Regions from separate parts of the Homo sapiens genome. Here all the other regions are linked to region 6. The links come from fine-mapping of genetic effects on gene expression. A gene starts in region 6. Each other region holds a variant in brackets. All regions are shown on one strand. Distances are between the middles of the regions. Region 1 overlaps WHRN (whirlin). Region 2 overlaps WHRN (whirlin). Region 3 overlaps AKNA (AT-hook transcription factor). Region 4 holds the start of LOC105376231 (a long non-coding RNA gene). Region 5 overlaps AKNA (AT-hook transcription factor). Region 6 holds the start of AKNA (AT-hook transcription factor).

Evidence for each region. PIP is the estimated chance that this variant, and not a neighbour inherited with it, causes the effect.
Region 1: its variant is fine-mapped to the expression of AKNA in monocytes after interferon gamma (Fairfax 2014, PIP 0.95).
Region 2: its variant is fine-mapped to the expression of AKNA in whole blood (INTERVAL, PIP above 0.99).
Region 3: its variant is fine-mapped to the expression of AKNA in whole blood (INTERVAL, PIP above 0.99).
Region 4: its variant is fine-mapped to the expression of AKNA in whole blood (INTERVAL, PIP above 0.99).
Region 5: its variant is fine-mapped to the expression of AKNA in whole blood (INTERVAL, PIP above 0.99).

What each region holds. Positions count from the first base shown.
Region 1 is chr9:114,421,125-114,426,124 of GRCh38, reverse strand. WHRN (whirlin) reads left to right here. Exons shown (of 12, transcript NM_015404.4): 5 at 1,101-1,137; 6 at 1,579-1,791; 7 at 2,602-2,811. Among named protein-coding and RNA genes, the nearest start is that of AKNA, 36 kb to the right of the region's middle. RefSeq lists an enhancer at 4,320-4,820. The variant T/C (reference allele first, on the strand shown) is at 3,010.
Region 2 is chr9:114,475,726-114,480,725 of GRCh38, reverse strand. WHRN (whirlin) reads left to right here. Exons shown (of 12, transcript NM_015404.4): 2 at 1,955-2,173. Among named protein-coding and RNA genes, the nearest start is that of WHRN, 27 kb to the left of the region's middle. The variant C/T (reference allele first, on the strand shown) is at 1,901.
Region 3 is chr9:114,348,958-114,354,066 of GRCh38, reverse strand. AKNA (AT-hook transcription factor) reads left to right here. Exons shown (of 22, transcript NM_001317950.2): 15 at 3,046-3,208. Among named protein-coding and RNA genes, the nearest start is that of ORM2, 22 kb to the right of the region's middle. The variant G/A (reference allele first, on the strand shown) is at 2,179.
Region 4 is chr9:114,691,371-114,696,479 of GRCh38, reverse strand. It overlaps LOC105376231 (a long non-coding RNA gene), which reads right to left and starts at 630. Exons shown (of 2, transcript XR_007061745.1): 1 at 1-630. RefSeq lists an enhancer at 4,709-5,109. The variant G/A (reference allele first, on the strand shown) is at 2,070.
Region 5 is chr9:114,358,548-114,363,656 of GRCh38, reverse strand. AKNA (AT-hook transcription factor) reads left to right here. Exons shown (of 22, transcript NM_001317950.2): 8 at 1,124-1,251; 9 at 1,746-1,953; 10 at 3,595-3,761; 11 at 3,863-4,063. Among named protein-coding and RNA genes, the nearest start is that of AKNA, 27 kb to the left of the region's middle. The variant G/A (reference allele first, on the strand shown) is at 2,443.
Region 6 is chr9:114,385,970-114,391,078 of GRCh38, reverse strand. AKNA (AT-hook transcription factor) reads left to right here and starts at 3,097. Exons shown (of 22, transcript NM_001317950.2): 1 at 3,097-3,219. It overlaps LOC124902253 (a long non-coding RNA gene), which reads right to left and starts at 3,029. Exons shown (of 3, transcript XR_007061742.1): 1 at 2,826-3,029; 2 at 2,490-2,634; 3 at 1-236. RefSeq lists enhancers at 2,805-3,094, 3,135-3,264, 2,735-3,470, 4,285-4,434.

The sequences.
Region 1 (5,000 bases), 35 kb before region 6:
CTGGCTCTCCTCTCAGCCTGCAGTCCCCACACCAGGGCCCTCCATTGGCAGGACATGACCTGGGCACATCCCTCTCCTCTCTTGGCCTCAGTTTCCCCATGGAAAGCTGAAATACACCATCCAACTGTCTCATTCTTTATTTGTCCCCAAATTACTTAACTCATTCTATAGACCTTAGTTGCTTCATCCAAAAAGTGGGGACCATAACCCTGCCCTCATCCCAGATCTGTGCAGATGAAAGAGAGGGAGGGAGAGGGAAAGAGAGAGATGCTTTGGGGTGTATTTGGCCAGAGGCCACCAGGCTGGATCCCATGAAGAAATCTGGGTGAGAGGGTCTTAAAGTCATAAACTGAGATCCAGTTGCCAGGTGGCTGCATAGTTGCCAACAGTGTAATGTGTCACCTTTTGATCTTCATCAGAAATCTCAGGCTGGTGGCCACCTGGCCAAATACACTGCAGAGCATGTCTGTCTGTCTGTCTGTCTGTGTCTCTCTGTGTGTGTGTGTGTGTGTGTGTGTGTGTGTGTGTGTGTGTGTGTCTCCCCCTTCCCTTCCTTTCACCTGCATAGTATTAAACATTTTCAAAGTTACTTGCCAACATCTAGAAAGATACCAGGTTTTCTATAAAAAAAAAAACTGGATTTCTGGATGCTTCTTAAAAATCAGGAAGTCTGGCAGCCTGAGCCCACATCGGCTGGAGCTGAGCCGCACCTGCGAGTTGCATCTGGGATCTCCAGTTCACCGGCCCCTAAGCTCCTGAGGGTTGGCCTGACCCTGAGGTTGCCTGTCAATCACCATTTCTTCCCTCCACTCCTTGTGTTACCTGCCTGGTCCTGCGGGGTTGGCAACAACTCAGGAGCCCACCTCGGGTGGTTTTGGAGGTGCCGTGCACACTGCTGATTGGGAGGCTGGACGCTGCCAGTCTGTCCGGAGTTTCCTTTACCCCTGAGTAGCCCCCAGACTGAACTGGCAGCGAGTGGAGGCCACGATGCATGGTTCTCTTGAAGCTTTGCTCTTCCTGCCCCAAGTCACCCTGTCCCTTGCCCACGCCCATTTGATCTGCTCAAATGCACAACTGGAGATGTGTGTCTTTCCCCACAGGTTTCTTGGCGATCTCACAACAGAAGGAATAAACAAGGTAGGACATCCTCTAAGGGGTATTCTCTGCTTCCTCACAGCTCCCTGAGTGAGGAGGTCTGGCCAGCCAGAGGGTGCCGAGTGACTTACACTACCTCATTCCAACTGGGCAGCCCCTTATCTGCCCACCCCCCAGCCCACTTATCTGTGACTGACTGCTAGGTTCTGGGCACTACCTCTGGCACCAGGGTTGATGGCAATGAACAGAGCAGACCAGGTCCCTGCCCTCATGCGGGTTTTACTCAGTGAAGGAGATGTAAAGACAAAACAAATTCTAATTAAGAAAGATAGTACTATCAAGGCAAGGTGCTGGGGGTTATGAGGGAGAATAACAGATGAAACACCACACTTAGACAGGATGGAAGGGCAGAGGGGGAGTGGCATGGCCACTCAGCTCTAGAGCAGCTAAGAATTCCTGGGCTTCTATCTTTCTGTCTTGCAGCCAGGATTTTACAAGGGCCCAGCCGGCTCCCAGGTGACCCTGAGCAGCCTGGGGAACCAGACACGAGTGCTGCTGGAGGAGCAGGCTCGGCACCTGCTGAACGAGCAGGAACACGCCACCATGGCCTACTACCTGGATGAGTACCGTGGTGGCAGCGTCTCTGTGGAGGCCCTCGTCATGGCCCTGTTCAAGCTGCTCAACACCCACGCCAAGGTGACCCGTGCCCTGCCTCCCAACTGGCTTCAGCATTTCCAGGGCTCTGCATCCTGCCCTGCCCCCGCTCCTTTGCTGAGAACCTACAAGGGGTCAGGCCTGAACTGAACACTGGGCAGAGACCTGGGACTGAGGCAGCCTCCTGCCCCCAGGATGCTCACAGACTCCTGGGGGAAACAGACATTTAAAGCGCCCTGTGATTGGGTCCCTGTCGCAGTGGCTTCCAACGCTGAGTGCACAGAATCACCTGGATTGCTCTTAAAAGCAGTGCTCGGGCCCCATTCCAGGCTGGTTAACGCCTCATATCTGGGGATGGGAGCCAGCTGTCAGTCATCTTCACAAGCCCTCCAGGTGACTGTGCTGTGCCACCAGCTTTGAGAACTCTGCTCCAAACTGTTTGAGGTCCAGAAACTGTACAAAGGAAGAGGTGGTGAAATCCACTGGGAGGGGTTATGTTTCGGAAGACTTAACAGAGGAAATAGGATTTGGAGATGAGTATTGGAAAGGGTATTCTGGGTGGAAGGTTCAGACAGCCAGAGGCTTTGTGGCATGAAATGTTGCAGTGTGTCCAGGGAGTCACAGCTACATGTGCTTGCTGAGGAGATGACAGGGAAGCAGGAGTGAGATGATGCTGGGCCTGGTGTCCAGGTGACGGTGTTTGGCCTTTCTCTTGAGAGCACTGGGGAGCCAGACAGTTAAGGAGGGGAGGCAGGGTCAAGTTTGCATGCCAGTCCTTTGGGGGTAGCAGGGCCCCTGTTCCACCTTCTAGTAGCGCTCCCTGCTGAGTGCCCCTTTTGTCCCCGCCTCCAGTTCTCACTCCTCTCTGAGGTGAGAGGCACCATTTCCCCGCAAGACCTAGAACGCTTCGACCACCTGGTGCTGAGGCGTGAGATTGAGTCCATGAAGGCGCGGCAGCCCCCAGGCCCCGGGGCTGGGGACACCTACTCCATGGTCTCCTACAGTGACACGGGTTCATCCACAGGCAGCCACGGCACCTCCACCACCGTCAGCTCGGCCAGGGTGAGCTTCTTCTGCCTTGTCCCTGGCTTAGTAGCCAGGGCAGAGTTAAGATGCTGGCTTTGGAGTGAGACCAGCCTGAGTTCGAATCCCAGCACCACCACTTACCAGCTGTGTGCCTTGCCTCTCTGAGCCTCAGTTTCTTCCTCTGTAAAAACCTAATAGTTGTTGAATGTCTACTGCATGCTAGGCATGGGCTCT[T/C]GGGGACAACAGGTGAACAGGAGAGATGTGGCCCTGCCTCCTGGGGCTTGCAGTCTGGGAAGCTGGGGGAGAAAGGTTAAAAAAAAAAAGTAGGTAAATTAGGCAAATAGAAAAAGATCATTAGAATCCTTGGGAATGCCTCTGGCATGGTGCCCACTCCCGCTGGGCACTCAGTAGATGGTAGTGGGCATGGTAACTTGGACTGTGATTTTTATTTTCCCCAAGAGGCCACCCTTTTGTCTCTGGAGCCCAAGCCCAGTTTGACTTTCTTTTTGTTTTTCGAGATGGCTTCTTGCTCTGTCACCCAAGCTGGAGTGCAGGGGTGCAATCTTGGCTCACTGCAACCTCCACCTCCCCAGTTCAAGCAGTTCTCCTGCTTCAGCCTCTTGAGTAGCTGGGATTACAGGTGCCTACCACCATAACCAGCTAATTTTTGTATTTTTGGGTAGAGACGGGGTTTTGCCATGTTAGCCAGGCTGGTCTCGAACTCCTGACATCAGGAGATCCACCCACCTCAGCCTCCCAAAGTGCTGGGATTACAGGTGTGAATCACCATGCGTGGCCCCAGCGTGACTCTCTTGCAGACTCACCAGCCCCCCAGCAAAGCATCTGGCCATCTCAAGATATGGTTCTGCCCCCTGGATGCTTGGAGGCAAATGAATCCCAGGAGACGTTTGCAAGGAAGGAGCAGGAGCATATGCATTGTTACCTGTCTTGGGAAACAACTGGTTATTAAGGTCCATGCAGTGGAAAAGTCAGGGCTGGAGGTCAGGAGAGCTGGCTTGGCCCCATGCTCTCCTCTATGCCCTTGTTTCTCACCGTTAGGTCATTCATCACCACTCTTCTATGGAAAGGCAGTGGGGAGAGTAATGTTTCTTAAGCAGGCGGTTGCTCCCAGATGCTGAACTGAGAGCTCTTTCTGGAGGAATCTCAGACTGGAGGTAGATACGGTATTAGCTGTCTTGTTAAGTGGGAGAGCAGGAGCTCAGAGGTGTGCAGTGATGGCCATGGTTATAAACACAGATGGTTAATGAGTGAGGATGAGCTTGCAGCCACCAGAAAATGGCCCAGGAGCATGCACCCTTCTCTTTTGCAAGCTCCAACTCCTAGTGTGGCTTTTCTTTAGCCCTGGGATTCTGGGTTTCTGGGGGTGATTCCTTTATACTCTTTTACCCCTATCCCTCCCATCCTGAGTTGCCATCATTTCCAAGGGTGCTCATCCCCTTCCTGGGATGTCCCCACAAGTCGCCCTGCATTCCTCTAGGGCTGGACATGGCTGCAGCAGAGGCAGTTCCATGTTCTGGGACAAGCAGATCACTTCTGGGGCAGGGAAGAGGCTGTCCTTCACCCCAGGCTCTGAGCACATACTTTGATATGGCATTTAGGTGAGGATCTGGTTTAAGGGTGCAGGTCCTTGGCCTGATGACTGTTTCTCTCTAAGATAGGCTCCACTGAGATTGGCCTTGATAATGTTCAGGCCTCAGCAGCCATGAGCCACTGCTCTAAAACCTGGGAAACTGCAGACTGTGCTTCTACAGTGGTCCCTTTAGAATCAGAGATGAAATATCCAGTGAATGGGGTGGGATGTGTTTTGGTCTGGGAGGCAGGAGGTCTAGGTTTGAGCCCCAGCCTTTCTGGTCTTCAGTTTCTGGATAAAATGGCCTGGGGTCCTTGCTGGCTCTGACTTCAGCAGCCCGAAGCCCTGAGGGCAAATCAGGCTGGAGTGCCAGGAGTCAGGTGACTATCTTGCCTGGCAAGGGCTCTGGGGCAGGGGTCAGGAGCCCCCAGCTCGGCACTGGCCCACAGCAACCTTGTCCCAGCTCAGGGGGCTCTCCCCTACCTGAGAAGCACCATCTGGGGCCAGTCCAGATCCCAGCTGTGGAAGTTGGCCCTGCTCTGCCAGAGGGGCTCTCACTGCAAATTGGGGCACCCTGGGGAAGGCAAGCCTCAGAAAGGCCATAGGGTGGTTTTATACAGGGAGTTTTTTGGGA
Region 2 (5,000 bases), 90 kb before region 6:
GCATAAAATTTCAGTGTGTGTGAATTCTATCATTTATTCAAACAGCCAGATGGTGCTGCCATAACAAAATACCATAGACTGGGTGGCATTAGCAATAGACATTTAATTTCTCACAGTTCTGGAGTCCAGAAGTCTGAGATCAGGGTGCCATTGTTCTCGGGTTCTGGTGAGGGCCCACTTTCAGACTTGAAAACTTCCATCTTCTCATTGTGTCCCCACATGAAGAGAGACCAGAACTCTCTCTTCCTACAAAGCTACTGATCCCATCATGAGGTTCCTACCCTCATGGCCTCATCTAACTCCAGTTACCCCCTAAAGGCCTCATCTCCAAAGTACCATCACATTGAGGATAGGGCTTCGGCGTATGGATCTGGAGGGAAATACATTCAGTCCCTAACACAGGCTATGTTTATTGTTAATCCTAGTGCTTAGTGAGTGTCTCCTTGGGTCAATGTCTTCATCTCAGCTGCAAGCGTCTTGTGGTGAAGCAATATGGCAGACCTCAGCTTCCACCCCAGGCTGTAGAGTTTTGGGCTTGCCTCTCCTCACGGTGGTTCCATCTGAAGACTGGGAAATGTACAATAAAGATGGTGTTCCACACTCAGAATTAGTTGCTATAAAAAAGGAACTTCTTTTTTTTTAATTAATTATTACTATTTTTTTGAGAAGGAGTCTCATTCTGTTGCCCAGGCTGGAGTGCAGTGGCACGATCTCAGCTCACTGCAACCTCCACCTCCAGGGTTCAAGTGATTCTCTTGCCTCAGCCTCCCAAGTAGCTGGGATTACAGGTGCCCACCACCACGCCCAGTTAATTTTTGTATTTTTAGTAGAGACAGGATTTTGCCATGTTGGCCAGGGTGGTTTTGAACTCCTGGTCTCAGGTGCTCTGCCTGCCTCAGCCTCCCAAAGTGCTGGGATTACAGGCGTGAGCCACCACGCCCGGCTGAGAAAGGAACTTCTTACTCACTGTGTGGGCAGGCAGTTTCCCTCCATTTCTTCATCTGACAAATGAGATCCTCCTTCCCCTCTGCAGTCCCCCTCCCCCATTGGATTTCATTAGGATTTCATGAGATAATGCATATCAGGTGCAGCGCAGAGTGGCCGACACATACAAGCCCTTTATAAATGTTAAGCGATTGCTATCATTGTTTTTATCTGTCGACTCTGTGCTTGGTATTTTATCAGAGTCCCCAAGATGACACCTGGGTTCAGTGATTCTCTAGAAAGGCTAACAGGATTCAGCATATGGTTGTACCTGTGGCTAGGGTTTATTACATCCAAAGGATACAGAGCAGAATGATCACGGGGAAAGGGTGCATTGGGCAGAGTCCAGAGGAGACCAGGCACAGGCTTCCACGGGTCCCCTCCCTGTGAGTTCCACAGAACACACTAATTCCTCCAGCATCAAATGGTGACAAAGGTGTGGGATGTTGTCTATCAGGGGAGCTCATTAGAGAGCACCCACAGTTTTTATTGGGGGCTGGTAGACATAGACCCTGTCTACTTGTACCCACCTTCCAGACTCCCAGGAGGAAAGCAGGCTGAGCATAAACCATTACTGTTTACAGACAGTCTAAGCACATGAGCCGCATTTCTCAGTCAGGGAATGGTGGGACACTCCCCAAATCCAAGTTCCGAGATGCCAGCCAAAGGCCGGCCTTGTAAACGAGCCTTCCTGAGGATAACAGTGTCAGGCCTGCAATGCAAACTCCTCCGCAGAGGTATCCTAAAAGATCATATTTCTTGTATTTGGACCACTTCAGGATGGGGGTGGGACAGATGTTCTTGTTTTCACAGGACAAAATCGAGGGCTAGAGAAGGAAAGGGACTTCAGGGCTGGCCTCTTCTTCCATGTGGGGCTCCTGAGAAAAACCAAGGTCTGGGCCAGGGGAGGGTGTTC[C/T]TCCACACCCCCGGCACCTCCCTTCCTCTAACCTTTGTATCCCTCTCTCCCTAGGCTCTGAAGGGCTCCAAGAAGCTGGTGCTGTCTGTGTACTCAGCAGGGCGCATCCCTGGGGGCTACGTCACCAACCACATCTACACCTGGGTGGACCCGCAGGGCCGCAGCATCTCCCCACCCTCGGGCCTGCCCCAGCCCCACGGTGGTGCCCTGAGGCAGCAGGAGGGTGACCGGAGGAGCACCCTGCACCTCCTGCAAGGAGGGGATGAGAAAAAGGTGAGTGGGGTGGGGAAAGGAGGCCAGCCTCTCAGACACCGTATTCTCCCTCCGAACCCAGAACAGCAGAGCTGCTTGGAGGCCGCAAGAAGAGGCTGGTTCTGTCCAGGCTCTGTCTTCCCTCAAGTCTGTACTGAAGGGTGGTGTTTTTTCTTTGCTTTTCTTTTTGACCTGTGTAGTGTATGTTATAATACAGGCTAAGCTGCCACAATAAAAGAGCTTAAATACTGTGATTTATTTATTGATTGGCTTATTTATCTATTTGGAGACAGAGTCTCACTCTGTCGCCCAGGCTGGAATGCGGTCACGAGATCCTGGCTCGCTGCAACCTCTGCCTCCAGGGTTCAAGCAATTCTTGTGCCTCAGCCTCCTGAGTAGCTGGGATTACAGGCGTGCACCACCATGCCTGGCTGAATACTGTGATTTAAATGAGAGTTTTTTTTTTTCTCCGTCATGTAACAGAATAGAGGGACAGTCTCATCTGGGGGACAGTTCTGCTCCAGGACTTATCCTGGGACCCAGATTCCCTCCATCTTCCATCCCCCAGGGTCTTGCCCCTTCTCGTGGTTGAAGCTGGGCCACATCAGGTCCCCTTTCTACCTCCCAGGAAAGGGAAAGAGAGGCATCTCTTTAATTTCAAGATCACCAAACTTCCCACTGGCCTAGACCCAGGTGCATGGCCACACATAGCTGCCAGGAATGTGGCCAGGATTGCTGCTCCACAGGGAATCTTGTGCAGTGTGAATCTTGGGCATAAGTAACAGAAACCAGCCCTGGCCATTTTACAGAGCAGGGATGTACTGGAAGGACAGGGGCAGTCCCAGAATTGAAGCCGAGAATCTCAGGGTGCAGCCTGCAGTAGGGGGATGTCCACCATTCCGTTCTCAGTGTCCTTCCCCTGAAGATTCCCAAAGAGGGAGCACCTCACGGGCTGGCAGGGATGTCTAGGGACTTTGATTGACAAGACCACCAAGACTGTAGCCAGTGGGAGAGGGGTGGTTGCCCAAAGCACTGTGGGGTGTTCTAACTTGCAGAAGGGGGCAGGGACACCAATAGATGTCCCCTATGGAGCCCTCCTGACCCCAGACCTGTACTGTTTCTTGAAACACAGGAAGGCTGAAATGGTCCCTGATATCTTACCCTTCTCTCTGGGTGCTGTTTGCATTGCACCCCTTGGTTACTCCTGGAACCAAGAACATAGCTCCTGCAGGCAGCTCCCTGGTGTGTAGGACCTTGACACTGACTGCCAGGAGGCCACATGGCTTGGGGCTCTGGGCCAAGTGCCATGCCTCTGGAAACTCTTTCTCAGCTCTCCTTTTCCTGTCGATAAGACTGTAACATTTATTTAATGTGTTTTGTGTTCTTTGCTGAAACGTCAATATGCAGGACGCGGCAGAGATCACAGCAGCTTCTATTGGAGGTGAGCGGCAGCAGGTAGCTTGTTGGTATGCACCACAGCAGCCCGGGCCGCGTCAAGGTTGCCAGGGCTGGGTGGGCTCGTACCCTCTCCCCACCAGGGAACTTGTTCTCTGACAATCTTGAGAGAATGCTGCCAGTGGTTATTGAGTCATGATCAAGGGCAGCTGTCTAGTGTTGGGCACAGAACTTGTTTTATCTTTTTCTCAGTCCCTTTTCTATGCAGGGCATGGGGTGAGTTGAGCTTATCATTGATGGAGAGCCCTTGTGTGCCCAGCCCTGTGCTCACAGTGTCTTCCTGAGTCCTCCTCGCAGCCACACTGGGAGGTAGGTGTCATCATCCCCATTTTGCAGATGAGGAACCTGAGGCTCAGCGCTGTGGCAACCACAGCCCAGCCAGCAAGTCTCCTAGTGTTTGCTGAGCACCTGGGTGCTTGACGATGTTATGGGAGTGGACAAGAGCACTGGGGCCCTGCTCTTGGGAAGCATCCAGAGTTTGGAGGTGGTGGGAAGAGTGAGACAATAATCCCAAAATGAGCACCAGTGAGCAAGATAATTAAGACAGTGCAAACTGATGGGAGGAAGTGAAATCAGGAGCCGGGTAGAAAGTGCCAGGGAGGTACGGGCTGTTTTGATTGAGGTGATCAGGGAGGACTTCTCTGAGGAGACGGCTTCCGAGCTGAGACCTAGAGAGGGAGAAGGAGCTGCCATGTGCCATTCGGGGACTGAAAATCCCAAGCAGCAAGGACAGCATGTGCAAAGGCCCTGAAGTAAGACTGAGGCCAGTGTCTGCAAGGATTGAGCAGATGGGAGGGTGGGGGTTAGGTAAGGTGCCTCTGGGAGTCTCAATAACTCATATAAGAATGTGGGGCTGGGCACAGTGGCTCACACCTGTAATCCCAGCTCTTTGGGAGGCTGAGGCAGGAGGGTTGCTTGAGCCCAGGAGTTTGAGATCAGCCTAGGCAACGTAGTGAGACCCTGTCTCTACAAGTATTTTTAAAAAAATTAGCCGGGTATGATGGCATGTGTCTGTGGTCCCAGCTGCTTGGGAGGCTGAGATGGGAGGATCACCTGAGCCCAGGAGATTCAGGCTTCAGTGAGCTGTGATTGCCCCATTGTACTCTAGCCTGAGCAACAGAGTGAGCTCCTGTCTCAAGAATAAAATAATGCAGAGGTGAAGGCTGCATGAATCATACTCCAGGGAGGACCCAGATACCGAAGGAGGCAGGAGACACCCTGAACCATCCCAGAGACAGGCCGTCCCAGATTCCACAGCCCCAGACTGGCGCATCTACCCTCCTCCCTGTTCCTCCTCTTCCTGACACAGTGTGGAAACCCCATTTCCCTATTGGGAAGGGGCATGAGCTGATGTCTCTGGATCCCTGGCTGCTGGATCCTGGGTAAGGGGCCT
Region 3 (5,109 bases), 37 kb after region 6:
ATAAAGTAAAAATGTTACTGTAAGTTAAACTTGATTAATTATTGAAGAAAAAACTTTTGTATAAATGTTGTAAATTTAGCCTAAGTGTATGGTGTTTATAAAGTCTACAGCAGTGTACAGTAATGTCCTAGGCCTTCACATTCACTCACCACTCACTCACTGACTCACCCAGAGCAACTTCCAGTCCTGCGAGCTCCATTCATGGTAAGGACCCTTTACAGGTGTACCATTTTTAAAATCTTTTATACCATATTTTTATGGTCTGTTTTCTATGTTTAGATACACAAATACTTACCATTGTGTTACAGATACCTACAGTATTCAGCAGGCAATGTTGTAGAGGTTTGTAGCCTACAATAATGGGCTATTCCATCTACCTCACATATGTAATAGGTGTGGGTAATCTATGATGTTTGTGACATGGTGAAACAGAATAACAATGTGTTTCTGGGAGCTTATACCCAATATTAAGTGATGCGTGACTATACTTAAAACAGAAATGAGGCTGGGCACGGTGGCTCACGCCTGTAATCCTAACACTTTGGGAGGCTGAGGCGGGTGGATCACCTGAGGTCAGAAGCTCAAGACCAGCCTGGCCAACATGGCAAAACCCCATCTCCACTAAAAATACAAAAATTAGCCAGACGTGGTGGCTGGCACCTAAAATCCCAGCTACTCAGGAGGCTGAGGCAGGAGAATGGCTTAAACCCGGGGGCGGAGGTTGCAGTGAGCTGAGATTGCGCCACTTCACTTCAGCCTGGGCGAAAGAGCAAAACTCCATCTCAAAAAACATAAAAAAAAAAAACAAAAAATAAGATCATTTTATATGTGAATATTTGGCGACCTCCTTTTTTCACTAAATTGTACTATAAACACTTTCCATGTCTATGAAATCTATATGTGATTCAGTTTTTGACCTTTAGAAATACACATGAATTATTTATTGAAATTAAAAACCACCAAAAAGAACTTAAATTGATGAGTTTTTACAAGGTGAACAGACACCAAGAAACTCAGTATGATCTGAACCCCAGAACCTCACTGAAGTCCCATTTAGTCACTACCTGCTTCCCAAACATAACCACTGTTCTGACTTCTGACACCTCAGATTAGCTTTGCCTAAAAGGTTCATCTTTTTTTTTTTTTGAGATGGAGTCTCGCTCTGTTGTCCAGGCTGGAGTGCAATGGTGCACTCTCTGCTCACTGCAACATCCACCTCCCGGGTTCAAGAGATTCTCCTGCCTCAGCCTCCTGAGAAGCTGGGATTATAGGCACGCGCCACCACGCCTGGCTAATTTTTGTATTTTTAGTGGATATGGGGTTTCACCATGTTGGTCAGGCTGGTCTCGAACTCCTGACCTTGTGACCCGCCCGCCTCGGCCTCCCAAAGTGCTGGGATTACCGGCATGAGCCACCACGCCCAGCTGGTTCATTATTTTAAAAACGTTTTTAATTAAACTTTTTTTTTTTGAGATGGAGTCTCACTCTGTCCCCCAGGCTGGTATGTAGTGGTACGATCTCAGCTCACTGCAACCTCCACCACTCAGGTTCAAGTGATTCTCCAGCCTCAGCCTCGCGAGTAGCTGGGACTACAGGTATGCACCACTGCGTCCAGCTAATTTTTGTATTTTTAGTAGAAATGGGTTTCACCATGTTGGCCAGGCTAGTCTCAAACTCCTGACCTCAAGTGATCCGCCCGCCTCAGCCTCCCAAAGTGCTGGGATTATAGGTGTGAGCCGCCACGCCCGGCCTTTAATTAAACTTTTTATTTGGAGATAATTGTAGATTCACATGCAGTTATAAGAAATAATACACAGAGATCCCATGTGCCTTTACTCAGTTTTCCCCAGTGAGACTATCTTGCAAAACTGTAGTACAATGTCACAGCCAGATGTTGACATTGATGCAGTCAAGATACAGAACGTTCCATCACCACAAGGAGCCTCATGCTACCCTTTCATAGGCACACCCACTTCCCTCCTGCCCCCAGCCTGTCCTTAACCCCTGGTAAGCACTAATCTGTTCTCCATTTCTATAATTTTATCATTTCAAGAATGTTCTATAAATAGAATCATATACTATGTAACCTTTTGGGATTGGCTTTTCACTCAGCATAATTCTCTGGAGATTTATCTAGATTATTCTGTGTATTAATAGTTAGCTCCTTTATATATTGCT[G/A]AGTAGTATTCCAAGGGTTTCATTGCTTTTATTTTTTATTTATTTCTTTATTGTTTTTGAGACAGGGTCTTGCTCTGTCACCCAGGCTGCAGTGCAGTGTCGCCATTATGGCTCACTGCAGCCTTGTCCTCCCTGGCCCAAGCGATCCTCCTGCTTCAGCCTCCCAAGTAGCTGGGACCAAAGGGGCATACTTCCACATCCAGCTAATTTTTTTATATATATAATTTTTTTTTTTTTTTGCAAAGATGGGGTCTTTCTATATTACCTAGGCTAGACTCAAACTTCTGGGCGCAAGCAATCCTCCCGTCTCAGCCTCCCAGAGTGCTGGGATTACAGGCGTGAGCCACCATGTCTGGCCAGTTCATTGCTTTTAATGCAGGGGACGGATTAGTGGTTTTTAACCTTTGGTCACCCATCCCTTTGGGAGATTCGTTAAAAGTTATTAATGCTCTCCCCAGAAACATGCATACGTGGAAAGAGGTGACTATAATTTCAGAGGAGGCTCTGAAGCCAGCCCCACAAAAACATGGTGAGAAGGTGATCAAGTCTTGAGGAACCCAAGTGAAGAAGTGATTAATTCTTTGCAGGGGAAGTTCCTGAAGACTCGGATGGTGTCATGGTGGGTGGGAGGAGGGGTTCTGGTTAGAAACAGCGGGGCAGGCCCAGCTCAGCACCCCACACTCCCAGCAAAATCTAGATCTTCTGGTTTGGAGGTCAGTGTGGGTCATTGGCCTCATCAGGAACTTCCTTTGTGACCTTGAACTAGGCACCGTCTCTTCACTTCCCCCATCATTCCACCTGCACAAGTGTGAGCTTGGAAGTTCTCTCTGCTTAAACTCACTTTGGGTTCTCTCTCTGCCTCCCTAGCGGTTCCTGGCTCAGAGTTTGAGGGGCACAAACGGATTTCTGAACAGCCCCTTCCCAACAAGACAATCAGCCCACCCCCAGCCCCCGCCCCTGCCGCTGCGCCTCTACCCTGTGGACCAACAGAGACCATCCCCAGCTTCCTGCTCACCAGGGCAGGGCGAGAGTAAGTTAGACACTTGGATCCTGGGGATTCAAGCTCATCATACAGACGGGAGCGTGATGCGACGTGTTAGCAGGTGGAGGTGGAGACCTGCCCAGCTCACACAGATGGTGGTGGTAGGAGCAGACGGACCCAGGTGTCCTGCCTCCCAGTTCCCAGCGTTTCTGTGGGACCTCATTGATCTAGACATCGAGGACACACTTCTCCAGCCAGTGGAATATGACCTAAAGATTCACCTTTCTGGTGCTGACACTTATGCCCTCTCTCTCCATCATCTCTTTTCCGAGAAAAGCCTGTCCTTTCTAGGGCTATCTTTTCTGCAATTTGACCATTGATTGTATGGACCAAGAAGCTACTGCCTTCTGAGTTTTTCTTTTCTTTTTTTGGTTCGTGTGCATTTTTTCTACTAAGAAAGTTCCACTTCCTTGGTTGAACAGAAATGGTAAAATCGCTTGGTCAGTTCTCTCACACCTCCTCTTAGTTGCTTTTGGCCAGTGATCACTTACACACCCTTGCTGGAGTGGGTGTCTGTCCCGGGATGCGCTGGGGAGACTGCTCGGTGGTGGCCCAGCCAAGGTTTCTTTGGCTCGAACAGGCATGAGGCTGTCATGTTGCCTACGTGCAAAGTTGTGTCCAGCTGCTGGTGTTTGGCTTCCTTGTCTGAGTTTAGTAAGTCTACCCCTGCAGCCTCCCCTGACATCAGTGGAGGAATTAGAGGCTTGTTTGTCTAGGGTATGCCAGGCCTTGGGAATACAATAGTGGACAAGACTCTATCCTAGGCCTCTTAAAGCTTACCATCTTGTAGGATGAACAGACAAAGAAACAGGCAGTAGTGCCCTCCATTGTGATAAATACCATGATGGCAGAGGACTAAAGGACTGTGGGAGCACAGCGAAGGAGCATCTGGTCCGGTTAGAGGCTTCAGGGAGGGCTTCCTGGAGGAAGTGGTATCTCAGCAGACATCAGAAGGAAGAGAGATAGAAGAGTATCTTCAGTGGAGGGAATGGCATGTGCAAAGTCCTAAAGGTGAGAGAGTGCCCATCACCTTGGAGGAGCTAAACGGTCAGCCAGATCCTCTAGTGTGAGGGGGTGGAGTGTTGAGCAGTAAAGGAAGAGAGGGGTAGAGAGGAGAGACCTATGGGAGATCCTACAGGGCCTGAAGGCCATGGGTAAGGGGAGACATTCACTGCATATTCCATGAGTGCACAAAGGCTGAGAGGACAGGGAAGGGGATTTTAAGCAGGGACGTAGCGTAGGCAGGTTTATGTTTTAGAGTTCTCTGGCCACCGGCAGGGTGAGAACGGAGACCAAGAGACTGCTGAGAAGGCTGCCACATCCAGGAGAGAGATGATGGGGACTGGGTTCTCGGGGAGGGCCCCTACAGAGGGGAAGAAGGGATTCATTTGGGAAGAGGTATTTTGGAAGTTGGGCCCATGAGACTTGGTAACTAATTAACTTCAGGGATGTTCAGGGAAGGAGGGGATCTAGAGTGACTCAGAGTTCTGTCTGGCTAGTCAGGTAGATGCTGCTGCCATGTGCAGAGACAGGGAAGTAAGTTTGCAGAGAAAGATGAATGTTAAGTGCCTGCTGGCACTCAGTAAGAAACTAAAGAGTTACATCAGAGAGACTGAGATACCCAAGTGGCTGACTCACGCCCCCGGCCTGGTAAGTCTTTTTTTTTAGTGCCTTCTGACTAGGAGGCGGAGCTCTCCATTTCAGGAGTTAACTGGGGGTGGGGAGATGTCACTCTCCAGTAGCCACCGCCCACACTTGCCCTCGTGGCTTTGCCTCAGAAACACCAGCAAGCGTCTCCCTGGGGATTACCAAGGGAACCCACTGCCCTCAGACACACACACTCAGCGCTGGGGCACAGCCAGGAAGAGGCCTCCACTCCTTCTGACACA
Region 4 (5,109 bases), 310 kb before region 6:
CAGGTGTGGTGGTACACGCCTGTAATCCCAACTACTCAGGAGGCTGAGGCAGGAGAATGGCGTGAACCCGGGAAGTGGAGCTTGCAGTGAGCCGAGATTGCACCACTGCACTCCAGCCTGGGTGACAGAGCGAGACTCCATCTCTAAATAAATAAATAAATAAAATCTTCAATGGAACCTTTGTGAAGCTCAACACATCTTCAATTAACATGCTGAGGATTGTAGAACCATATATTGCATGTGGGTAGCCAAATCTGAAGTCAGTAAATGAACTAATCTGTAAGTGTGGTTATGGCAAAATCAATAAGAAGCGAATTGCTTTGACAGGTAACACTTTGATTGCTCAATCTCTTGGTAAATATGGTATCATCTGCACGGAAGATCTGATTCATGAGATCTATACTGTTGGAAAATGCTTCAAACAAGCAAGTAACTTCCTGTGGCCCTCCAAACCATCCTCTCCAGAAGGTGGAATGAAGAAAAAGACCACCCATTTTGTAGAAGGTGGAAATGCTGACAACAGGGGGGACCAGATCAACAGCCTTCTTAGAAGAATAAATGAAGATGTCTACCATGATTATTTTTCTAATCTGGTCAGTTAATAAACAGTACCTGCTCTTGAATTGAAAAAAAAAAAAAAAGGAAAACTCAATTATCAACCTTAGTTTTATCTCCTTTAAAATTTGTATCTTATTTAAAAAATATATTATCAGAAGCTCAAAGAACCATGAAGCCTGGGTTAAAATGCAGTAAGCCGGGATCATGCCACTGCACTCCAGAGCCTGGGCAACAGAGCGAGACTCTGTCTCAAAAAAAAAAAAAAAAAAAAAAAAAAATGAATTCTTAAAACTTTTTCTGGCTGAGCACAGTGGCTAACACCTGTAATCCCAGCACTTTGGGAGGCTGAGGTGGGTGGATCACTTGAGGTCAGGAGTTCAAGACCAGCCTGATCAACATGGTAAAACCCTGTCTCTATTAAAAATACAAAAAAAAAAAAAATTAGCCAGGCATGGTGGTGGGTGCCTATAATCCCAGCTACTCAGGAGGCTGAGGCAGGAGGATGCCTTGAGCCTGGGAGGCAGAGGTTGCAGTGAGCCAAGTTCATGCCACTGCACTCCAGACTGGGTGACAGAGCAAGACTTAGTCTCAAAAAAAAAACAAACAACAACAACAACAAAACTTTTTCCTTGGCCTTCTCTCTTGCTGACAAGTTCTATAGTACTTAGAAATTGCCCAAGAGAGATTCCTACTTCTGATGTGTTTTGTTCTTGGTTTGCTTTTGTTTTTTTCCTGAGTTGGCAGAGGTGGGACTGAAACACATGTCCCTTGCTTCTCAGTTCAGTTCTCAGGCCACAGCACAACTGTTTTCATGTTATAAGCTCAGGACCTCTGAAAAGGCTTCTCATCTCCAAAATAGACTCTTCCCAACCTGAAAGTGAAGCTTAAGAAGCCTTTCGCAATGACTCACTCAGAAGCAAAGGTTCCCCAACAGAGAAGCAAGTCATGAAATAAACACCCCACAAGCTCCAAGCACCCCCGTGTGCCATGCGCAGTCTCCAAGCCAGGAGGGTCTCAGAGAACCGTAGAGCCATGGGAAACTGCTCTCTAGTGCTTACTTTCCCCCTGTATTGGACACGGTCAAGAGAACTTCCTCCCCTGTCTGCCTTTTTTCGCTGCCTTTCCATCCATCCCTCCATTCATTCAGTCATCCATCAACAATAGATTGGATCCATTAAGGCCCCAGCTTTCCTTCTACCCTACACCCATGACATAGATATAAAAGTGAGGTGTCCTCCTACTCTGTCTCTGGGCCCTAGCCATGTTTCTTGTTTTAGCCAGCAGAAAATCAGAGAACATGGCACAAGCAGAGGCAAGAAAAATTACTAGCATGTTCCTATTTATCCCTTGTAGCCTCTTCCATGGGCATAAGCCAGCCTGCTGGAAGATGAGAGACATGAACCAGGGTCAAGTCACCCAGTTGTCCCAGCCATGCCCATTATAGACCATCCAGTAGCCAGCCAACTGCCCTGATGTATGACCAACCCCAACCAATTTCAGCAGAACTGGCC[G/A]GCCATCCCGGGCACAAGAGCAAGAAACAGGCATTGCCATAAGCCACTGAGGTTTTGTATTTATTACTAAGCATTATTGTGGCAATAAATCACCTCTACATTCCAGCTAGCAGGAAGGAGGAAGGACAAAAGAATGTTTCCAGAAGTCACATAGGATGCTATCAGTTATTTGTCATTGGCAAGAACTCAGTCTCACAGCTGCCTCCACTGCAGAGAAGATTGGAAAATAATGGTCTTTATTCCAGACAGTTACATTTCCAGCCACAAATTGCAAGTTCTATTATTAAGGGAGAAGTGGTGAAAGGAAACTGGGAAACAATTAGAAGTCTTGCTGCAAGTGCAGACAGGTTTGGGATCAAACAGACGTAGGTCCATATCGCAGCTCAACCAGGGACTCAACTTGTGACCGTGGGCAAAATGTTTCCTTCTCGGGGACCTCAGTGTTCCTATCTATACAGTGGGAGCAAGGGAGAGTTAGTCCGCATGGGCTCTTAAGCTCCTCCTGGCTCTTTCCTTGCTAGAAATCAAAGTGAAGATTTTGAAGGGGTTGGCCTTCCATCAGATGCTAGCAAAGATGAACCTATTTACACACCTAGGTGACATTGCCCCTTCAGTCTGAAGCTATTTAGTGAACAAAAAGGCCAACACCTAGCAGAAACTTGTGTTGGAAAAAGATCTGCCTGGGCTCGCTCTTGCTGCTTTTCAAGTTACATAGAAGCAGCTGTCTGGTGCAGGCATCTAGTCCATTAAGGCCTCTAGCTATAACCCTCAAGCACCCAGTAGAGGTCAGAGAACAAAGATCCAATTATGTTGCTCAACTCCTGCCTGGGACTCCATCTAAGGAAGCAGAGACCCAAAAAGATATGGAAAGGGAGTGGTCTGATAGTCAAAATCCAGCCAGGCAACATTTATATGGTCCTGTTTGGAGTAGGAATAGAGAAAACTACATTTTAATTTACCATCATCAAATTACATAGCCCATATGTGTACTTTATAAAGAGGAAAGAAACCTTTACTCAGAGTGTAATTACAGCTTTCTAAAAGTCCTATAAATCTTTATAGTTCTGCAATGAAAGAAACTTCCCACTTTATATTTGATAAATCAGACTTACGTAATTTACAACTCAAGAATCCTCTTACTTTTACTCTAAACCTCAAGTGTACTTATCTCTCCCCTTGAGGAAAAAAAAAATTCAAAATAGCACTGAAGCCCAGGGCCCTCAGAATGCTCTATCTGCCACAAAATTCACGACTGTCCTGAATTTTGTAAGAAATGCATGAATTATAACAACAAAACAGCAACATTAGGTATTGAGTGTTTACTCTGTGCTTAAAACTTTGAGTTCAATGTTTCAATGCATCCTCAAAAAGCCATTAGGCATTACCATGCCACTTACAGGCATGGACACTGAAGCTCAGAGAAGCCACATAAGTCATCTAAGGTCACACAGCTAACATACGGTGAGCTGGGATTTCATCTTAGATAGTTGTCTCCACAGCAAAGCACTTGGCACAGTGTCTTACACATAGTTAATGTCACAAATGTTACTATTATGCTTACTTTCCTTAAAATGATTTCTGCCAGTCAGGCACAGTGGCTAACGCCTGTAATCCCAGCAGTTTGGGAGGCCGAACGGGCGGATCTCTTGAGGTCAGGAGTTTGAGACCAGCCTGAACAACATGGTGAAACCCTGTCTCTACTAAAAATACAAAAAGTAGCCAGACGTGGTGGCAGGCACCTGTAATCCCAGCTACTCAGGAGGCTGAGGCAGTAGAATCACTTGAACCCCAAGGGTGGAGGTTGCAGTGAGCCAAGATAACATCACTGAGCTTCAGTCTGGGCGACAGGAGACTCAGGCTCAAAAATCAATCAATCAATCAATCAATAAAATGATTCCTGCATATATTTGGGCAAGGTGGTCCCACAGATTCCTTAACCCACAGTGTCTAGATGATTTTCATTGGCAAACCCATAATTTTTCCTGTAAGTTTCCCACATCCCTGCCAAAGCCAGAAGATTTGTCTTATTTTATTGGTTTCTGAGAATGTTGATTTCACTTTTTAGGGTTTCATCAGAACAATCTTAAGAAATAATCTCCTCTGGCCAAGCGCAGCAGCTCAAGCCTATAATCCCAGCACTTTGGGAGGCTGAGGTGGGAGAATTGCTTGAGTCCCAGAGTTAGAGACCAGCCTAGGCACCATAGTGAGACTCCACCTCTACAAAAAATAGAAAAAATTAGCCCAGTGTGCTGGTGCATGCCTTTAGTTCCAGCTACCCAGGAGGCTGAGGTGGGAGGACCACTTGAGCCAGGGAAGAAGAGACTGCAGTGAGCCATAATAGTGCCACTGCACTTCAGCCTAGGCAACTGAGCAATACCCTGTCTCAAAACAAACAAAAGAAAAAAAAAATTTCTTCCATATCTCTGAAAATTAGCACACTGTCTTGAAATCAGTTATAAGGCTCAGTATAGAATCATCATGAAGAAGCTTTTGAGCTTCATGAGCACAAAAGCATAGAGAGGTGGGTGGCTACCGAAAGACAGCACAGTGTGTCATCGGGGAAGGCACAGAAGTCTTTCCAAGATACAGCACACCATGCAGTTCAAAATGTAACTTCATACATGCCAGCTCTTTTTGCCCTGAGCAAGGTGGGAATTGTGGGTGTCATTTTAAAGATGAGCAAATGAGACTCAGAGAAGGAAAGTGATTTGCCCTGCATGGGAAAGGCAGAAGTCTGAATCCAACTAGGGGTGGGTAGTATGTTTGGCCATGGACATTCCAGATGACTTGGTGACAAGAAAGCATGTGTGGAAGGAAAGGGAAGCCATATTGACTCTGAATCACATGCTGCCCTACACTGCGGCGGCTCCTTCCTCCTTCTCTTCCAAAAGGGAAGCACAAAACACAGCACCAAGAGGAATGCCCACCAAGTGCTCCTGAGAGATGACCTGCACTGTAACACTGTTCCTTGGGCCATCTATTGGGGGAGAGAGCCTTAGAAAGGGACGGGCACCACCTCTTCGGAACCTAAGCCCTTTCC
Region 5 (5,109 bases), 27 kb after region 6:
GCAGGGTGGGAGAGGAGCTGAGAGAAGGTCTGGAGAGGCAAATTCAAAACACCTAGTTTCTAAAAAAATGTTATGGCAGGATATTTCCTGTGTGGTTACATAGATGTCATGTACATTTTCCAATCACAAAATGTGTCATATGTATCATGTAATATCATCCAGTGGATGACCAAGGACCTTATAAACTAAAACCATTCATTTTTTTGCTCTCTGTTCTAATCCCCCCATATACAGGGAAGTTGAGAGCTGTCAGAAGATTAGATGTGACCAGGGAATGGGTTTTAGGTTGTGCTTGGCTTCTGTCTCTCCTCAGAGTTGAGTGGGATGTGGATGGTAGTAAGACAGTGATACCAACCCCAATTCCTGCAGCTTTAGCCATGTATTACCTGTGATCCTCCTATGGGAGCCTAGCAGAATTGCTAGGACCATGAGCTCTGGGGCCAGAGGGCCTGGGCCCACATCCTGTCTCTACAACTCACTCACTCCATGACCTTCATCAACTTAAGTGACCTCCCTGTGCCTCAGTTTCATCCTTTTTAAATGAAGATGATAAATCACCCCTCTCATTATGATTATATTGAAGATTAAATAAATGCAAAGTGCTTTAGCCCAGAGCCTCAATGCTCAGTAAACATTCTCAATAATGTGATGGTGATGATAACATTATCGGTGTCGATAGTCTATAAGGATTTGGGGAAAGAGTGGCTAATTTTCTGAAGCCCACAGTTTTGCAAATCAAGAATGAGGATCCAGAGTCTCTCATGTAAAGGGTCCTTATGGAGATAATAGTGAGAGTGTATTTGACACTGTGACAGCTATGACAGTTTGTGGTACATTGGGGTCCTTGTAAGTCTATGCAGGAAGGGCTGGTGCCCTCTGGAGCTGGTGCCAAGTCTCTGAGTTGTGTCTCTGTTGTGCCAGCCTGATGGCAGAGAGCTTGACCACGGCAGCTCTCCAGGGCAGGCAGCCTCCAGAGATCTCAACCTCAGCCTGTATCTTGCATGAACCCAGGGGCCCAGGTGCATCCCATGGCCTCCCGCAAGCTGTCTCATCCACTGTGTCTTCAGGGACAGGCCCCGCGGGGACTGAGCACTCAAGTCTTCCTGGCCTGGTCTGGTTTCAGGGCTTCCAGCGGCTGAAGGCTGCCCACGCGGCCCTAGAGGAGGAGTACCTGAAGGCTTGTCGGGAGCAACACCCTGCCCAGCCGCTTGCCGGCTCCAAGGGGACGCCTGGAAGATTTGATCCTCGCAGGTACCTGCTGGGGTGGAAGGCCTGGAAGGACAGATGGGATGGGCCCCTGGGGTCCCTCAGTCTCCAGGAGGGAGGCACTTTGTCCTTATAATTTGTACACGGGGAATAGAGAGAAATCTTATCCTAATTAGTATACATATCCAAATGGTGGCACGATCAAAAGCTGTGATTTGAGTCCCTTTGGACCCACGTGCTGAGAAGATGCCTTGAAACCCTTATTGGATGATGGGGAAACTGAGGCTAGATGGGGGTGGGATTTCTCTAATGTCCCACAGCCTGTGGATGGCAGAGGGGACTTGGGCTGAGACCTCCTGATTCCCAATGGAACCTTCTTTCATCTTGCTTATTTTGAGTTCTCACCATCATCTAAAGGCTGATATTAAATGGACCCTAAGGGGGCATCCCCTGGAGTCTCTGCTCTGATACTCTGTTCCTGGACCTGCCTGATGTAGCTGCCATCTTGGGCTCCTGGTGGTAATGTTTCTGCATTCCAGGGAGCTGGAGGCAGAGATATACCGTCTGGGAAGCTGCCTGGAAGAGCTGAAGGAACACATAGACCAGACCCAGCAAGAGCCTGAGCCGCCCGGGTCAGACTCAGCTCTGGACAGCACCCCAGCCCTGCCCTGCCTCCATCAGCCAACGCACCTGCCTGCTCCTTCTGGACAAGCCCCCATGCCAGCCATCAAGACCTCCTGCCCTGAGGTACCTCTTGGCTCAACCATATTGGGCTGTTCCCTCGTGCATTCATTTCTTCGTTAATTCATTTCTTCAATACGTATTACATATTTATGAAGTGTGTGCCATATGCCAGTGTGTGCCAAATATGTAAATATTACATATTTATGAAGTGTGTGCCATGTACCATGACACATGGTAGGGATTCAGTGGGATGGGAGGTGGCAGGGAAGGTGGCGTCTACCTTCACAGAGTTTTCTGTAGAGTTGAACTGGTTACAGTGATTTAGTTATAATTTTGGTCAGTGCACTGAAGGAGAATTATGGGGTTCTGTGAGAGTAGCAGGAGTAACATGACTGAGTTTGAGGAGGAGGTCAGAGAAGCTTTCCCTGAAGAAGTCATGTTTAAATGAGACCTGAGACTAAGTAGGAATTACTAGAGACAGAAAGAGAAAACCCATCCAGCAGGGAAAACAGCTTGTGCAAAGGCCCTGTGGCTAGAGTATGGGAAGAGAAA[G/A]GAAAAATAGTCTGAGATGTGGCTGGAGAGGCAGGCAGGGGCCCCATGATGTAGGGGCTTGTGGGTCACGTAGAGAGCATGGCCTTAAACTCTGCTGGATTTTCTGGCAGGGGATGACATAAGATGACTTGTGGGTAGGCCAGTCTGAGGCTGGGGAGGTGGCAGGGCAAATGGAGAAGCATGTGTGGACTTAAGAGAGGTTGGGAAGGTATGTTTGAGTGGACTTGGAGTGGCCGTGAGAGGGAGGAAGGGAGACACGGATGGCTCCAGGTTTCTAGCTTGTAGTACTGCATGGATAATGGGGTGAAACCTAGACAAGAGCCCTACACAAAAGGGGCTTTGTAGAAGGCTGTCTGGCCCACACCACAACCCCTTGAGAGACAATCACTATCTCCGTTTTGCAGGCGAGCAAATTGAGTGTAGTGCGTTCACACAGATGACAGTAGTGGGGTCTCTATGCCTCCCAACTCCTGTTGCCTGTGCTGCAAAGACTTGTCTGTTGAGGATGGGAGCAGGAAAGAGAGCCTGGCATGCTGGGTAGGGTGGGACACTGGTAGGACATCCCTGACAGCTGAGGTCATGCTGGCCCTATGGTTTGGGGAAAATCTTGTGCTGTGCTCTGGCCTAGAGGGTAGGAAAACTCTACCAGGTGCCACTACACACTTGAATGGGGAGAAAACCTGAGTACAATATCTTAAGGGACCCTCATGCTCCTGCAGTTGAAGGTATTGCAGGGGGCTGGGGTGGCCATGCTGGAATGGATGGGGGTCAGGAGAGTTAACTCTGGCAGGAAATCTAGGTTTAAATCTCAACTCTGCTCCTTGTTTCTGTTGACTTTGGGCAAATCATTTGAGCGTGAGTTACCTGTCTATAAAATGGTTTGTAATAATCGTAGGTACTGGTGGGATTGTTGTGACATGGTATCTGTATGGTGCCTGGCACACAGCAGGTGCTCAATTCATGGCAGCCAGTATCGAAGACCACACAGCCCAGTCTCCATAGTTTACACATACATAAAAGGGTGGTGGGCTTAGTGAGTCTAATGTGCTTCTTACCCCGCAGCCCACAGCTCGAGCCTGGCAGGAGGTAAGTGCTTAAAAGTGGTGTTTAACTATCTGCTGAATCTCTGTCTGTCCATCTTTCTGACCCCAGCCTGCTACCACCACTGCCGCCGCCAGCACTGGCCCCTGCCCATTGCACGTAAATGTGGAGGTGAGCTCTGGCAACAGTGAGGTGGAGGACAGGCCACAGGACCCCCTGGCCCGACTCAGGCACAAGGAGCTGCAGATGGAGCAAGTTTACCATGGCCTCATGGAGCGGTGAGTGCCACCTGGACCTGACCAGGGTGTCTGGCCAGCAGCTGGATCTTGGCTGTCCCCCACTGGGCAGAGGTCATGCCCCTCTGTGTGTTCTTCTGCAGGTACCTCAGTGTGAAGTCTCTCCCAGAAGCCATGAGAATGGAGGAGGAGGAAGAAGGAGAGGAGGAGGAGGAGGAAGAGGGGGGAGGTGACTCCCTGGAAGTTGATGGGGTGGCTGCAACTCCAGGGAAAGCAGAGGCCACCAGGGTCCTCCCAAGGCAGTGCCCGGTGCAGGCTGAGAAAAGTCATGGGGCTCCCCTGGAGTAAGTCACTGAGCCTTTCCTGCAGAATGTTTGTTTCCACCCTAAAACCACAGGGATGATCACTGTCAGAGTGAATAAGACAGCGCTTCACAGTTTAGACATGGCTTACCTGTCCTGCCTCTTCAAGTGTGGAATGTATACCACTGATAGCCCTTGAAATGATTTTGGGTAGTGTGGGACATGATTTTCAGTAGGACACATGCAGTATTAAAGAACATTATTCTCAGCTGGGCACAGTGGCTCATGCCTGTAATCCCAGCATTGAGGGAGGCCAAGGCAGGTGGATCACTTGAGTCCAGGAGTTCAAGACTAGCCTGAGCAAAACGGCAAAGCCCCATCTCAACAAGAAATACAAAAATTAGCCAGGCATGGTGGTACACGCCTATAGCCCTAGCTATTTGGGAGGCTGAAGCAGGTGAATCTCTTGAGCCCAGGAGGCGGAGGTTGCAGTGAGCTGAGATCGGGCCACTGCACTCCAGCCTGGGTGATAGTGTGAGACCCTGTCTCAAAAAAAAAAAAAGAAAAAAGAATATCATTCTCTTTTTCTGTCTCTGACCTTCTAATGATGCCAAGGAGAAAGTCTCAGTTAGTGCTGTGGTGTCTTTTTTATTTTTCTTTTTTTGTACTTTAAGTTTTAGGGTACACGTGCACAACGTGCAGGTTTGTTACATATGTATACATGTGCCATGTTGGTGTGCTGCACCCATTAACTCGTCATTTAACATTAGGTATATCTCCTAATGCTATCCCTCCCCCCACCCCACAACAGCCCCCGGTGTGTGATGTTCCCCTTCCTGTGTCCATTTGTTTTCATTGTTCAATTGCCACCTATGAGTAAGAACATGCGGTGTTTGGTTTTTTGTCCTTGTGATAGTTTACTGAGAGCTGTGGTGTCTTTAATGCCTCTCTTGAACTTCTGTGGAAAAAGAGAGAGAGAGACAGTATGAGAGCACACAAGGCCTAGAGCATTTAGCAGGCAAGTGGATCTATCTAGTATATGATAATATTCAGGTTTCTTATATTTATCCTCAAAGTTAGTTTCTGTT
Region 6 (5,109 bases):
TATGAGTCAGGCTTGGGCAAGTAGCTAGGTTGAGTGGATCATCCAGGATATATTTATTGTATTTCTATTGTATATCAGGGCCTGTGTGCTGGGTCCTGGGGATATGATGATGAGAGCCTCACAGAGCTCCCAACTGAGTGAAGAGACAGATGTTAATCAAATAATCACATATGAAATATAGTTCCAAATGGGGAGTCCCCAAGGAGGGCACGCTGGAGCTGACATCTGGAGGTTGCCTAGAAGTTAACAGGGAAAAGAAGTGGGACTGGGTGAGGGGAGGAGCAGGACACATCTGTCCCAGGAAAAGCAAGGAGGCCTGTATGGCAGGAGCATGCTGAGCAAGGGCAGAGAGGGTGGTGGGAGAAGAGGCTGCAGCAGCGGCCAGCTTGTGGAGTTTCATCTTCTTTCTCAGAGCCATAGTAGCTAGCTGTGCGTCTGAAGCATGGAAGGGTCTTGTTTGGAACTTTTATCTTGGAAGACCACATCGGTGCAGTGTGGGGAACAGATTAGTGGACCCTAGAGCTTTCCAGGCAAGGCCGATCCAGGGACCCACGTGGGGATGCAGAAACGGGGACAGATTCTGGTGAAATTTAGGAAATGAAATCACTGGGAGTTGACGATGGATTGGTTATGGGATGTAAGGGAAAAGGAAGTGTCCAGGGTCACAGTTGATTCTCAGTGTGTACCTGGGTGAAAGATGGGCCAAACTAAGGAGGGGTGGGTTTGGAGGGTGGCAATACTAGGAGCTCAGTCTTAGACATGCTGCTTCGGTTTGGTAGAATTTGGCCTGTGGGTGGGGACAGTGATCCAAGAGGGGGCAGTGCATGAGCAAAGGCAGGGAGGAGGGTTGGTCATGCTTGGGGGTGCAAGGAAATGGAACAGACTGCACTGCAGGCGGTTCTCCTTGGTGTTAGGTGGCTGCCCCTGAGATGGGTTTGGGGTTATCCAGGGGCCACAGGCTATGCCCAGCAATGGCAGCCACCTGGGTTAATGCTGCCTGGGTTAATGACCAGGGAGGGAGGGTGAGTGAGTGACAGGGTGTCAGGGGAGCCCGCCCCTTGCACAATGGCACACATGGCCTCCAGAGCTGATAGGGAGGGGCCTCATTAGGGTTTGGCTCTGCTCCATGTGGGGCTGGGGGCTACAGGGAGAGCCCTGCCACCCAGATGTGGGTAAAAGGCAGGAAAGGGGATAGAGGGGTGGGCGATTACCAGGATGAGGGCTCCTGGTTCTAGCCCTGGCTACGCCAGATATTCACAAGCTGACCTTGGGAACGTCCACTCATTCATTCATTCATTCATTCACAGAACACATTCATCAGCCATAAACAGTGTGCCAGGCTTCAGGAAAGATATTAAGATCTAGCCTTTAGAGGAGACCAGAGACTTATACCTAAGTAGCAGCAATAGTTGTAGTAGCAATAATAAAATAGCTCAATACATGACTGTGTTCTGGCTCCCCCGCTCTACCCTTGGTAGGCATCATGTCATTGAATCTTTATAGCAGCCCCTGTGGGGTGGCTACTCTTCTTATCCCTGTTTTACAGATGAAGAAACTGAGGCTTAGAGACGTGAAGCCTCAAAGGTCAGGGCCAGCAGGAGATGGGGCTGGGATTTGAACCCAGGTCCACAGTGACTCTGAGATTTTTTTCTCTCCTACATGGGTGGTTCCCAAATCTGGCTGCTTATCAGAATTACCTGGAGGGCTTTTTGGACAATACAGAGGCCTGTTTTTTTTCCTCTTTCTTTTTGTTTCCTGACTCAGAGTCTCTGGGTCCTGGGTGGGGCCAGTGTTGGGAGCCTCTTGTGCTCCTGTGCCCGCTTTTCTGTGAAGCTCCTGCTTCTCCCGCTTGACTCGCTCTGCCCCGGGTACACAGGCCTTGCTGTTCTCAGGGAAAGCCCGCTGGCTCCCCCACCTTGGCCTTTCCACTTGCCCTCCCAGAACACTCTGCCCCAAACCTTCTTGTGGCTTGCTTTTGACCCCTCTTCCTTCCAGTGCCTTATTTGAATGTCACCTCCTCATAGAGACCTTCCTGACCGTCCTATAACCCTTCTCCTCCAACCCATTACTCTTGGCCCCATGTGTTCTCTACCAGGGCCAGTCACCTGGGACACTTAAAATGTCTGATGCCCAGAGACTGACTCTGTTGGCCTGGGGTGAGCCCCAGGCTTCAGTGCCACCTGGCCTGGGACACGGATCGTCACCCAGTCTCATTGTTCACAGCTCTCTCCTTGAAATTATACATGTGCTTGCTTATTGTCCATGTCTCTGCTAGAGTGGAGAGCAGGGGACTGGCCTGTCTTCGGCCCTGCCATATTCCCAGGTGATTTAAAAGCACCCGCCACACAGTAGGAGCTCAGTGAGTACCTACGAATGAAGGAATGGGATGGTGGGGCTTGAGGAAAGATAGCTCGACTGACCATCAGGATCGATCTGTTCCCAACATCTGGTGAACCCTTGGAGGGTTCTTACAACAAGGGAAAGTTTACCTGATCCGCCAGGTTCACACCTCCATGCTGCCCCGAACATCCCACTCTGGCTGCAGGACCACCTCGGGGTGAGGACGGTGGGTTGAGATGGCAGGAATCACCACGGTCTCCCTGAGATTCAGGTTGCACATTGGCAGAGTCAGAGCTGGAAGGGCAGGAGTGGTGTTGAGTCTGAGCTCTCACCGTGCACATGGGCCCTGAGGCCTAGTGAGGGAAGGAGCCTCGGCTAAGGTCAGGCCGTGGTTGAAGAGGGCCTAGAGGGTAGGAGCTACAGCATGCTGTGTGACCTTGGCCAAGCCTCTGACCTTCTCTGTGCTTTAGTCTCCCCATCTGTACCTGCAGGGCCTGGGCTGAGATGATCCCAAGCCCAGGACGTCAGGAGTTTGTTCCCTGAGTCCTTTCCTGGGCAGCGCTGACTGCGGAGGGCTTGCAAGGGGTTAAGCTCCTCCAGCTCTTGCTCTGCACGCAGACAAACCCCCTCCTTCTGACAAACACTTGTAGGAAATCAGGCTGGGCGCTTCCTGCCGAGGCGAGGCGGCCTCAACCACGGCAGGGGCGGGGAGAGGTGGGGAGCGATGCTGGTCTGTGAGCAGCAGCTTGGGCTGGCAGAACGGCCTGGAGGTGGGCCAGGGCGCAATGGAGACAGGGGGCTCCCTGGGTTTGGAACAAAGAATTCACAGGCAGGTCCCCTGAAACTGGGTCGGCAGGACGGTGGTGGAGCCCGAGAGAGGTAAGGGATTGGAACGGAGGAGGGCCCGGGAGGCCGCTTTCCTTCTGGACGGGCCAGTCACAGACTCTCCGGGACAGTCCAGGCAGCCGGACCAGCCCAGCCAGGAAGTTGCAGCTGCTGGAGCTGCACCGCTTTTCTCTTGGCTTAGGGGATCCCGGCCTCCAGGGCAAGGGTGGATTTAAGGAGGATTTCGTCAAGCCTCAGGATGCTAGATTCCAGTCCTAGCTCTGATTCTGATCTCTTGTGAACTTGGGTAGGCGGGTCCATCTCTGTGCCTGGGGTGTCGTCGTCTGCACCTGGAGAGTTAGTGTCCTTGGTTGCTAAGGGGTCTCAGAGACGATGCAGGCATGGGCAGCAGGCCAGGAGGCAGCGACGGCGCCGGGGGGTGGTCCCTATTGAAGGAGTGGCCCCTTATGCCAGCTGCGTAAGAGCAAGGAGAGGAGCCAAGGACAGTCCGAGGACCAGCAGACCCAGCTCAGCTCTTGAGGATGGCAAGACCAGAGCTGGCAACAGCCAGGGCACCGTTTCTCTTTCTCCTCGGCCTCTGCTGCTGGAGCGGGCTGGGGGCAGGGAGGACACAGAGAGGGAGTGGCTGGTGCTTCCTTGTGGGACTAGAGTCCACACAGCTGGTGGGAACCCCTTGAGAACAGCAAGTCTGTGCCCTGCCAGCAGGTGGGTGGGGGTATGGTTGAGCCTTTTTGGAAGGTCTGGTTACTGATTTGGGGGGTGGTCTTCCTTCCCCATCTCCCTGACACATCTGACAGCCTTGGTTTCAGAGTTGCGGTACCCCAGCTTTGAATCCTCTGTCTGCGCTTCCTGGCTGTGAGGTCTTGTGAGAGCAGGCCATGTCTCTGTGCCTCAGTGTCTTCATCTGGGAGGTGTCAGGGTGTGGGTGGGGGTAGAAGCAGGGTGGCACCCTGGACAGCTCTGGCTGGATGGGAAGGGGCTGCAGAGGGCACGGGGAGGCTGTGCGGGCTGCGTAGCTGTGCTGGCAAAGGAGAGCCTGGGCGTCTGGGCAGTTCTGAGGGATTGAGCCATAAAGGGAAGGGTCCCTGGCTGTGGAATGACTGAGCGGGCGGAGAAGCCCTGTGTGGGTGGTGGGGAAGAAGAGTCCATCCCACCCAGGAACTGAAGATAGACACCTCAGGGGTCTGTTAGACCCTTGAGAGAGCAGGGGCAGTGGCGGCTTGGGTGTAAGAAGGAGATGTGCAGAAGGAGGGTGCAGTGGCTGCTACTTCCTTGTGGGGCCAGTTTCTCCAGGGATGGCGGGGACCCTGAACTCCATAGCCCTCCCCAGCTCACACTGCTGGAGTCTTCACCAAACCCCACTCACTGCCTTTTAGGAGCAGCCCTGCTGCCCTAACGAGGGCTGGCTGGAACAACTCTGCCTTTATCTGGCATGCAGGGACACCTGCCCATAGCTCTCCTTCAAGGTCAGGCCATACTTTCAGACCTACGTGCCTTTGCCTCCGTGCTGTTCCCGCTGCCTGGAATGCCCTCCCCAGTCTTCTCCCCCAAATCCTCATTGTTTCTCAAGCCCACCTTAAAGCTTCCTTTGGTAACACTTCTGTATTGTACTACCCCCCACCGTTTAAAATCTTGGAACACTTTTACTCTTTTCTATATTCTTTGCATCTTACGTAGCGCCTGGTATATAGTAGGAAGTCATAGGGCTTTTTTAAAAAGTTAATTTGCGCCCACTGGGTGCTCAGTATGTATCTTTGTACTTTGAAATGTGACCTCAGGGAGGAGGAGAGAGGTTAACAGTTCTGAGGCTGTTGCCCTTAGAAGCTGAGTCAATCAGGGACTTCAAAGCTCTTTGAGTCCCATACCCTGCCTCCCAACCCACCCTAGCAGGGTGATATCCCCTTGCGATATCAAGAGCAGGTG